Regions from separate parts of the Homo sapiens genome. Here region 2 is linked to region 1. The links come from fine-mapping of genetic effects on gene expression. Tissue or cell type: whole blood. Region 1 holds a variant in brackets; the other region holds the start of a gene. All regions are shown on one strand. Distances are between the middles of the regions.

Region 1 (5,671 bases):
ATCAACTAATGAGCAAAATAACCAGCTAACATCATAATGACAGGATCAAATTCACACATAACAATATTAACCTTAAATATAAACAAGCTAAATGCCCCAGTTAAAAGACATGAACTGGAAAATTGGATAGAGTCAAGACCCATCGGTATGCTGTATTTCAGGAGACCCATCTCATGTGCAAAGACACACATAGACTTAAAATAAAGGGATGGAGGAATATTTACCAAGCAAATGGGAAGCAAAAAAAAGCAGGCATTGCTATCCTGGTATCTGATAAAACAGACTTTAAGCCAACAAAGATCAAAAGAGACAAGGAGGGGATTACATTATGTAATGTAACAAGAAGAGCTAACTATCCTAAATATATATGCACCCAATACAGGAGCACCCAGATTCATAAAGCAAGTTCTTAGAGACCTACATAGAGACTTAGACTCCCACACAATAATAGTGGGAGATTTTAACCCCTCACTGTTAATATTAGACAGATCAACAAGACAGAAGGTTAACAAGGATATTCAGGACTTGAACGCAGCTCTGGACCAAGTGGACCTAACAGACATCTACAGAACTCTCCACCCCAAATCAACAGAATATACATTCTTCTCAGCACCACAATGCACTTATTCTAAAATTGACCACATAATTGGAAGTAAAACACTCGTCAGCAAATGCAAAAGAATGGAAATCATAACAAACAGTCTCTCAGATCACAGTGCGATCAAATTAGAACTCACGATTAAGAAACTCACTCAAAACCTGCACAACTACATGGAAACTGGACAACCTGCTCCTGAATGACTACTGGGTAAATAATGAAATTAAGGCAGAAAATAATAAGTTATTTGAAACCAATGAGAACAAAGACACAATGTACCAGAATCTCTGGGACACATTCAAAGCAGTGTTTAGAGGGAAATTTACAGTGCTAAATGCCCGTAAGAGAAAGCAGGAAAGATCTAAAATCGACAGTATAACACCACAATTAAAAGAACTAGAGAAGCAAGAGTGAACAAATTCAAAAGCTAGCAGAGAATGAGAAATAACTAAGATCAGAGCAGAACTGAAGGAGATAGAGACACGAAAAACCCTTCAAAAAATCAATGAATCCAGGAGCTGGTTTTTTGAAAAGATCAACAAGATAGGTAGACCGGTAGCCAGACTAATAAAGAAGAAAAGAGAGAAGAATCAAATAGGCACAATAAAAAATGATAAAGGGGATATAAGCACTGATCCCACAGAACTTCAAACTACCATTAGAGAATACTATAAACACCTCTATGCAAATAAACTAGAAAACCTAGAAGAAATGGATAAATTCCTGGACACATACACCTTCCCAAGATGAAAGGAAGAAGTTGAATCCCTGAATAGACCAATAACAAGTTCTGAAATTGAGGCAATAATTAATAGCCTACCAACCAAAAAAGTCCAGGAATGGACAGATTCACAGCCGAATTCTACCAGAGGTCCAAAGAGGAGCTGGTGCCATTCCTTCTGAAACTATTCCAAACAATAGAAAAAGAGGGAATCCTCTCTAACCCGTATTATGAGGCCAATATCATCCCGATGCCAAAACCTGGCAGAGACACAACAAAAAAAGAAAATTTCAGGCTAATCTCCCGGATGAACATCGATGAGAAAATCCTCAATAAAATACTGGCAAATTGAATCCAGCAGCACATAAAAAAAGCTATCCACCACGATCAAGTCAGCTTCATCCCTGGGATGAAAGGCGGGTTGAACATATGCAAATCAATAAATATAATCCATCACATAAACAGAACCAATGACAAAAACCACATGATAATCTCAATAGATGCAGAAAAGGCCTTTGATAAAATTCAACAGCCCTTCATGCTAAAAACTCTCAATAAACTAGGTATTGATGGAACATATCTCAAAATAATAAGAGCTATTTATGACAAGCCCACAGCCAATATCATATGAATGGGCAAAAGCTGGAAGCATTCCCTTTGAAAACTGGCACAAGACAAGGATGCCCTCTCTCACCACTCCTATTCAACACAGTATTGGAAGTTCTGGCCAGGGCAATCAGGCAAGAGAAAGAAATAAAGGGTATTCAAATAGGAAAAGAGGAAATCCAATTGTCTCTGTTTGCAGATGACATGATTGTATATTTAGAAAACACCATCAACTGACAAAGAAGTGTATTTATCTCTGTGGTTTACAATAACTTTACCCTTCACCTTTTATTTTTGGTGAAAAACCTGGTTAGTAAGCAATTTTAATTATGTTCCAGCTGTGGATCCTAGGACCCAGACAGAAGTGCAGATAAAGTCTGACTTTTCAGCTTCTAGCTCCATGAGTCCCAGGCCTTACCTATGTGTAAAGCAGGCAGTATATGACCTTGCAACATTTAGCAAACCTGGTATCTAAATTATATGATTTAGACAACCTATTTGCATTTTGATGACACTTGCCTTTTACTAATAATCCTTCAGACTATTTTTATTTCTTCAAGTCATGTGAACTAAAACATTTGATTGAAGCACTTATTTTTCTTTAAGCCAATCAATCAGAGCTCTTTTTATAGACATCACACACAGCACATATATAGCAACACTAAGAAACAGAAGATTCAGCACTTGTAAGATTTTTCACTTGGTAGTCTCTTAATTGGATTACTGGCTTTAGGGTGGAGCCCTTGAAGGAACAGGGCTATGTAGCATACCTAATAAACAGACGCAGCTGAAGGCAAAGGCAGATCCCTAAAATTAAGGGTGCCATTTTATACCTGATCTTGGGTCCCTAAAAGGAGGGAGATACTATGGGAGAAGACAGTGTAGTGGTTCTATCACGTATTTCACTGCAAGGGAACCCAAAGCCAATTGGCTTATTCTGTAATGAGCCCATTCCCCATGGGAGTCTCGTCTCTTAGTTGGGGGTGAGGATGTTGCCATATCTTTCAGGTGGCCAAGAGCACGCTTCTTTGATTATAACTACTATTAGCCATCCCTAACATTGAATTTTCTATCTAGTTATTACACACCGAAGCTCTCTCATAGTGTGAAGTAATTTGACACCCCCAAAACTCAAAATGGTAGATTACACAATACATAACAGAACAGAGCCTTTGATTTTGAGAAGTAACTGCTTTTAATTTTGGGGGTTTCATGAGGAAAACAGTTTTTTTTTTTTCCCCAAAATGGGGTCTGTGGTGCCTCCTCTGTTTTTCCCAAGGAGTCCCATGCTACCAGAAGTTATCTTAGGGCTTCTCATGCTTGCATTAAGAATGGTAAGATGAAAAATGGAGAAAAATAATTCAGTTGATTGAAAAGAAAAGAGCCTTTTTCCCAAAAAACAAGATTCAACAAGAGAAAAGCATAAAGACCTTTTCAATATACCTATAACTTGAACATATCCACTTTTAATTAAGCTGAGCACTTTTAAAGAAAATCCTTTTAAATTCCTTGTTACTTGAGATTGCTGCAAATGAGAGGTGCATGGTTCCAGCAGAGTCTATGAAGGGGAGTATTGAACAAGTCATCGGGGTCAGGCAACGATGTCCATGGATGGAAAGAATAAACTAAAATCTTGAGTCAATTGTGTAAAAAGGAGGGAGCCATAAAAAGCATCAATGATG[A/G]AAACAAAAAAACCCTGCATAGGTGTTAATCGTGGTAGGACTAATAAAAGTATACGCAAACAATCCTCTGTCAGAGATACACATGCTCCCCAATGGACTGTACAGATGACAAGGTGAATGTCAAGCCTGAGTGAGGATAAACTCTCATCCACAAAAAGGGTGGATGCTTCACAGACCTGTCTACTGCAAAAGAGGCCTCAGTCCTGAAGCCCATATTCATGGGTTTGCAGCCTCCAAGACCATGAGCTGGGTTTCCTTTTCCATTTATGTCAAAGAGAAATGGTGTATCTAGGTGTCCGTGTAGTTCTGCAAGTAGGTGATTTAGTGGATTTTGGCTGTGCTCTAAACTAGGAACTACTGGCAAACCATGACATATATGACAAATGGGACAAGATAATGGCAGTTTACATTGAGAACTACTATGTACCAGAACTTGGTATATTTTAAACACACACACACCCATGAACACACTCATTTGATCATCTATCAACCCAATGATGTAGGCACCATTAGTAGCCTACTTTGACAAATGAGAAAACTGGGGTTACATAAACTGAATAATTTTCCTAAGGTCCAGGAGCCCATAAATGAGGATCTGAACCCTCATAGCTGTAAACCTCACCACCAACCCTCCCCCTCCTTGGTGGCAGCAGGGCTGATTCAGGGACTCCGTCGTCATCCTGTGTGATGAAAGTGAGATCCACTGTTGCCCTCAGCTTGGACTCAACTAAATCTGTCAATGTGTCTTTGATGACAAAACCCGTAAGGTCCCCTTCCTTCTTAAAGGTTTTCCTGGCTGGATCTCAGCCCTGCTGTCTGTGAGAAACACCAGAGCAGTTTAAACAGTACAGAAAGGAGGGATTCACCCCAATGCTACTGAATCAAAATCGCCAGAGAGAGAAGCCTGTGGGGTCAGTATGTTTTAAAAGCTCCAAGTGATTTGACTACATAGCTGAGAATGGAAAGCTATGGCCTGGGCTGTGACTCCTCTCAAATGTAAGTTTATTTAAGAGAAAAATTTCTGGTGATTAAACTCACACCACATGAAGGCACGGCAATGGGAGGGAAGGCGGGTGTGTATTGCTTTGTCTGGGGGCTTCCTTCACTTTCCCTTAAAAATGGGATTGGCCCAGGCAGCACAGATAGGTTTGAAGTGGAAAACTTGAGCCTAGGGGTTAGGGGGAAGTGACCACCCACCCTGTTCCTCTGTCTCTTCCCTTCTATTATCTTCCCAGCCTAGAGCCCCACTGATGTATGATTGGCTCTGAACACTCCAAAAGCTCTTGAGAAAAAGAGTTAGGTTATTTAATCTTCAGATCAGCCCTAAGATAAGACGTGGGTGGCTACACATCACAGAAAGCTTGCTTTTTATAGATAGAAAATGTGAATCTTGGCCATATATATAACTGCACGTATAAACAAGATTCAGGTTTGGGAGTGAGGCAGGCTAGAGAACAGGTGCAGCAGATGTTTTTCCTCAGCATATCTTCTACAGGTGGGATGTATTCAACTATGTTTTCAGTACCTATGCAGTGAACATGGTGGTGATGGAAGGGGCTGAGGGGAAGGATTAGACTTTCCCAATGTGCAACTGAAACAAGCCTGCTTGTTGTCAGACATGCAGGGGGATCAAAGCAGGGTCTCCTTATGTCCCTGCTCTCCCATAAAGAGAACACAGCCTTCCAGCTTCCTGTGCCTTGTGAAGCCATAATTCACCTGTGCCCCTGCACTGCTACAAAGATAAAAAGAACTAATCAGCAAAAGCTCATAAGGAAATTGAGGATCCCAGGAACATTTCCAGATGTACCTGAACACTCACCTGGAGCACAGAGCAGAGTTCTCACAAGGCTGCTGTCTTGTGCTCCGCCCCACTCAGATGCAGAGATTCCTAAGGAGGTGACATTGATGGACGGCAGCAGCCCTGGCTTGGAAGGGCGGGCTGGGAGCCAGGCCTCATGACCTACCAGGTGCCCCGGTAGGTAGGACCAGCCAGGCTCCCTAGGTACAAATAGCCCTGGCCTCCATGACTACACAGGCTCCTGGAGTCGAATCCAAATCACTCAT
Region 2 (5,323 bases), 240 kb before region 1:
GCCTTCTCTAGCCCTCCAGTCTGGAATGGGACAAGAGCCAGTCCTCAGAACTACCCCCCGACCAGGTAATCTTGACATTCATATCCCTGAATGAAGTACCTGGTCAGTGATCTCTGCTCTGGGGCTGCTTCAAAAACCAACCTCTCCCTCCTGCCTTCTTCCCTGTTGACCAAGAGGGTGGCCAGAACAAACAATGGAGCAGATAAGTTGGCTCTGAGCCTGGGACTCTGGCCTCTGCTGTTTGGATCCTGGGGGGCCGATCTAGCCCAGTCGAGGCGAAGACACAGCGTCCACGCCTTTCCGTGCTCTTCTTCCTTTTCTGCTCTAGCAGCCCCCCACGCCCCCTTAGCCCTTTTTGCAGATACCCTGTGTTTCCAACCTAGGTGTGAATCAACTCCTGTTTTAATATGCACTGGGAACATTCGCTCTTTCAAGGAACGAGATGATGATTCATTCCATAAAGTTAAAAATCCTTTGGTAAACTGTTAACAATGGTTACTTTTGGGAAGAGGGACTGTGATAGGGGAGGAGGGAGAAGTCTGTGTTTTATTGTACTTTTTTTTTTTTGAGATGGAGTCTCGCTCTGTCACCCAGGCTGGACTGCAGTGGCACGATCTTGGCTCACTGCAACCTCTGCCTCCCAAGTTTAAGGGATTCTCCTGCCTTAGCTTCCCGAGCAGCTGGGATTACAGGCTGCGCCACCATGCCCTGCTAATTTTTGTATTTTTAGTCGAGGCGGGGTTTCACTATGTTGGCCAGGCTGGTCTCGAACTCCTGAGCTCAAGTGATCCACCTGCCTTGGCTTCCCAAAGTGCTGGAATTACAGGTGTGAGGCATCGCGCCTGGCCTTGGTAATTTTTTTTTAAGTGTTCTATAGCTCAAAAGTTTTAGATTTGTTTTTTCTTTAAATAAGGTAGGTGCTAGGAAAGGGGTGCAGAACAAAATGGGGGAGCAGGTGATTCTTGGGAAAGTGTGAGTCTGTGACTGTGTGCTTGGGATGTGTTGTGGCGAGGCTGCCTCTGCCATGGGGTTGAGTCATTATCTGGGCACCTGTGTGTGTGTATTAGAGAGAGCAAGAGAAAATGCTGGTGCCCAAGTCTCCGCTTTGTGTTTTCACATGTCTCTGCCTGTCTGGATGTCTGCACATGCGGCTCCACCTTTCTGTGTCCATTATATGAGTGCCCATGTCTGTGGTTCCTCTGGCTGTCTCTTCCCTCCCCCACGGCCTGTACTCTGTGCCGGTAACTGGACCTGGACACAGCCCCCAGGGCTGGCAGCAGAGTTGACTGCTGGGTATTTTTAGCCTGTAAACATGTTTGCCATTTCAGAGGACAGGGCCGAGCTGGTCTCAGCTCCAGCCCACTCATGATCTTGCAGCAAGGAGGGCGCTCCTGCCTTGGCCAGGTCTCCTTAGTTCCCCAGCCTGGGGTCTCTCTTTCCTTAGCATTTGGGAAGGAGGGGAAACTGGCTTGGAGCGGGCAGTGGGTGGCCACCTAGGAGGGAGGATAAAAGGACTCATGAGGGAGAAGAGAAAGGGAGTGTGGAGGGGAGTGTGTAGCCAGAAGGCCCCCGCACCCCATCATTAAACGTTTAATAAAATCTCGATGTAGTTAGAAGTGGCTGTGGGAAATCGCTGTAAATTAGGAGACTCAGCGTCCCGCAAGTGGGGAGGCGGGGGCGGCGCTCAGAGAAGGAATGGGAGGCAGAGGAAGCGCTGGGGCTCTGGCTCCTGGGGGCGGGAGTCTGGAGAGGAAGGTGGGCGTCGGGTCCGCTGTCCAACGCCCGGGGTCCTCACCCCCGTATGCCCGCGGCCTGCGCAGCACCGCGGTGCGCGAGGCACTGGTGACCCCGGCTCCTGGGGGGTGGAAATCCAAGCCAGTTCTGTGCGGATATGGACGGAGGGGCCCCCAGAAAGAGAGAACGCGAGAAATGGGCGCGGCAGCACGGAGCTTGGGAACCAAGCAAGGAGGCTGGGGCCTGGGATCTGAAGTGTAGTTGCCTAAGCTGAGAGAAAACTCAAAGGTCCGGAGCAAGCTGACGGTCGCGGCTGAATCACCCAGCCACCTTCAGAGCCCCCAGGCCCTTCCTGCAAAATAAGTTGATTCGCAGTTCCAGCTGTGAGGGTGAGCCCAGGGAGCCTGCAGGAGTTTCTTGCCAATGAAGCCACACAGTGCACATGTTGGAGAGCAGGTCCAGGTCCGGGACAGGACAGGGGGCAGTGGATGCGGGGAGGGGGGGAAAGAATGTCCCCGCGTCCCCCAGCGGCCCCCCTCCCCAGCAGCCCACTCCCGGGTCCCTCCAGGGTCTGCCCCGCTCGCCAGTCCCAGCCCCGCTCCGGCCCCGCCCGGCCCCGCCCTCTCCCCACAGCTCCGGGCAGACCCGCCCGCCCGAGCCGGAGTTACAAGAGCCGCCTCCGCGCACGGGGGCCCGGCCACTCGGAGCTGCTCTGCCGCGGGGACTGCACCGCCCGCCCTGCCAGACCCGCCCGGAACGGGGCTCGTCGCCGCCAGTAGCCGCAGCACCGCAGCCTTGGGCCTCGCGCCGGCTATGGCCGTGCCCTGGGGCTGAGCCCTCAGGTAGGGGCGCCAGGCGCACCGTGGCGCCATCGGGGTCCGGGGCACCAAGGGCGGGTCGCGGGGAGGTGGGTTGCGGTGCTCCGGCAGGGCGCGTTGTTGGGGGTGTCACTGTGAGGATTCAAGCAGTTTGGAGCAAGCGGGGCCACCCGGGGCGGCGACGCGTCGCTCTCTGGGAGCGGAGTTCTGCCTCTGGAGTTGGGGCGCAAGTTGGTTAAAGTTGGAAAATCGCTCCGAAGTGCTTTGCTCCACTCTTTATTTCTCCGGAGGGCGGACTGTTGGCTCCACTGCAAGGCAGGGCGCCCCGTTCCGGGCCTGGTGGCCTCTGTCCCACCTCCTCTCCCTGCATGGGGCGGTGGCTCGGGGGCTGCTCCGTTCGTATCCCATGTTTACTGGAGGGGAAATTTCCGAGATCGCCACCGCGGCCCCCAGCGCCTCCGCGCCTCCGCGACCCCGCACCGTGCGCCCCCTCGGCTGTCCTTCCGCGCTCCCTGCACCTCTGCCCCTAACCGCGTCCCGAGTCGTCCAGGCCCCACCCTGTTCTGTACCACCAGCCCCTCAGCCTCCTCCAGCTGCCCCGCCCTAGCCTTGCCTCTCCGCGTTCCCCGCTCCAGAAAACCTTCCTCTCGGGCCGCGGAACCTGGAAGTTTGCAATGCGCCTCCCAGCGGGATGGGTGGGGAGGGGGACAAAATTAGGGAGATTCCTATGCTGAGGTGGGCGAGGAGGGGGGTGCGCTGCGGCGGCCCAGTCCTCGGGACCGCCCCTTCCCCTCCGGAGGCGGCGCTTTCCCCCCGCCCAACTCCCAAACCCGTCCGGGCGGGATGGCCCCCGCCCCAGAGCCTGGCCCGGCGCCAGCAGCCTGAGGAATGTGGTGGTTGGAGCCGGTGACTAATTCAAACCAGAACTCAGGGAGGAGTGGTGAGGGGCAAAGGGGAGGAGGAAGGGGCTGTGTGTGGGAGTTGGGGGCAGGAGCCGGGCTTGGCGTGGGAGGAGGGCTAAGCTGCGCTCGCTGGAACCCTGCGCTCCAGCGGTGCGCGCCAGGAGAGGGGGCCCGAAGCGAGGTCTCGCCTAGAGTTGGAAAGGCAGCGTGCTTAGGGTGTGTGCAGAGCTGTGTTATGTAAGGCTTTCCCATGCAAGGGGAGGGGGTGTGTGTGTGCAGTGTGCGAGGGCCTGGGCCGTCCCTGGCAGGGCTGGTCGCCCCCCAGCAGTGCCCAGGCCGGGATGTGGGGGCGCAGCCCCTTGGCGGCGCTGACCATGAGGGACTCCAGGGGCCCAAACAGGGCTGGCTGTGCCCCTTGCTGGGAGGGGTGCGGAGGGGGCAGATGGGTGTTCTCAGCTGTAGCCGAGGCCCCACAACAAGGTGGGGAACGGCTCTGGCCCCTCTGCACAATGAGGCCACTGAGGGTTGTGTGCGATGTGTGTGCTTGCCGGTTTCGCAGGGTGTGGCTCCCGCCGCGGCGACCGTGGCAGTGAGGTGCTCCCAGGGAGCGTGCGGTCGCTGCAGAGTGCCCTGCTCTGTGGAGGGGATTTGTGGAAAGGCAGTGTGGGAGCCTCCCAAGTCAGTCAGGTCCTTAGACCTCCGGAGTCTCCGGAGGAAAAGGGACCGAGATATCTACCTCTGTGTCTCCAGCACAGCGCTGGGCGCTCAGTAAATACTGGTTTCGAACCCGTCTTCATTAGAATCCAACCTCGGATTGCAGGGCTCCTGCTCTCTGCTTGCCCGTCCCAGCACAGCCTAGTGCATGGTAGGTGTTGGGTTGATTTTGTGGAATACAGTGAGGGGCTGCAGCAGTGAAGCTGAGAGTGGGGGAAGGCGTTTAAGGGCCCCTGCACCTATACTGGCTGTAATTCAGGGTAGAGATCTCGCTTTCATCCCCTCCCCGTGAGGGAAATCCCAGGGGCAGGGTGTGGCACTCACTTCCTTTCAGAAGCTGAATGGGGGGAAGCTTCCTTCTCCAGTCCTTAGGGACAGCGGGGTCACCCACCCCCCACCGCGTGGATAGTGGCCTGTGCAGAATGGGGAGGACAGGGGAGCCCCCAAGTTAGGGGCACCTCTTTGCTCTGAGCTGTGAGCTTTGGGGTGAGGGAGGGTGGGAGAGGAGCTAGGGAGGGTAAGAGTGGAGCTAGGAGAGGTCGCAGGGTTTGGGGGCTGTGGGAATGTGGGTTAGAGGGTGTCTGAGCCCCTCTCTAAAGCCTTTGTCCCTAAGAGGTTATGCACAGGGACACTGGTCAGAGAACAGGGACACATGGGGAGCCACATAAGTCATGCGGGCTGATATGGAGGCCCACAGCAGCGATTCAGGGGTCCTGGTCCGGGAACTCCTTGAGGAGCCAACCCCTCGGAGCTGAGGACTTGTGGCAGCCAGACATGGTCCAGGGCCAGGGGTGGGACACAGGGACCTGTTGAGGGAGAAGGTCCAGCGTCAGCCCAGGGTACGGAGTTGGCTGGGGGTCCCCGGAGTCATCTTAGCCCTCAGGAAGTCCTGGGGAAAGGTGGCGGTGCTGCCAGGCTGGATTCTTTTGCTCGACTTGGAATTGGCTGGTGGGTCCTGGCAGAGCCGGTCACCCTGAGCCTGAGGAGCTGGTTTGAGGGGTTGGGGCAAAGCCGTGGGGGCGGAGGGGTGTGTGGGGCTCTGGGGTGTGGTCACCACCTTCTTTAGAACTTGGGAACTGCCTGGAGACAGACAGAGAGACAGACCGGGAGAGCTAGTCCTACTCCTTATGGGAACAGTGTGGCTCTCTCCCCCAC

Evidence for each region. PIP is the estimated chance that this variant, and not a neighbour inherited with it, causes the effect.
Region 2: AHNAK starts here. The variant in region 1 is fine-mapped to the expression of AHNAK in whole blood (INTERVAL, PIP 0.93).

Annotation. Positions count from the first base shown.
Region 1 is chr11:62,299,045-62,304,715 of GRCh38, reverse strand. It overlaps SCGB1D4 (secretoglobin family 1D member 4), which reads left to right and starts at 5,641. Exons shown (of 3, transcript NM_206998.2): 1 at 5,641-5,671. The variant A/G (reference allele first, on the strand shown) is at 3,608.
Region 2 is chr11:62,543,913-62,549,235 of GRCh38, reverse strand. It overlaps AHNAK (AHNAK nucleoprotein), which reads left to right and starts at 2,430. Exons shown (of 5, transcript NM_001620.3): 1 at 2,430-2,576. RefSeq lists enhancers at 1,793-2,323, 2,902-3,412, 3,413-3,923 and silencers at 2,279-2,448, 2,569-2,638, 2,919-2,968, 2,979-3,098, 3,629-3,758.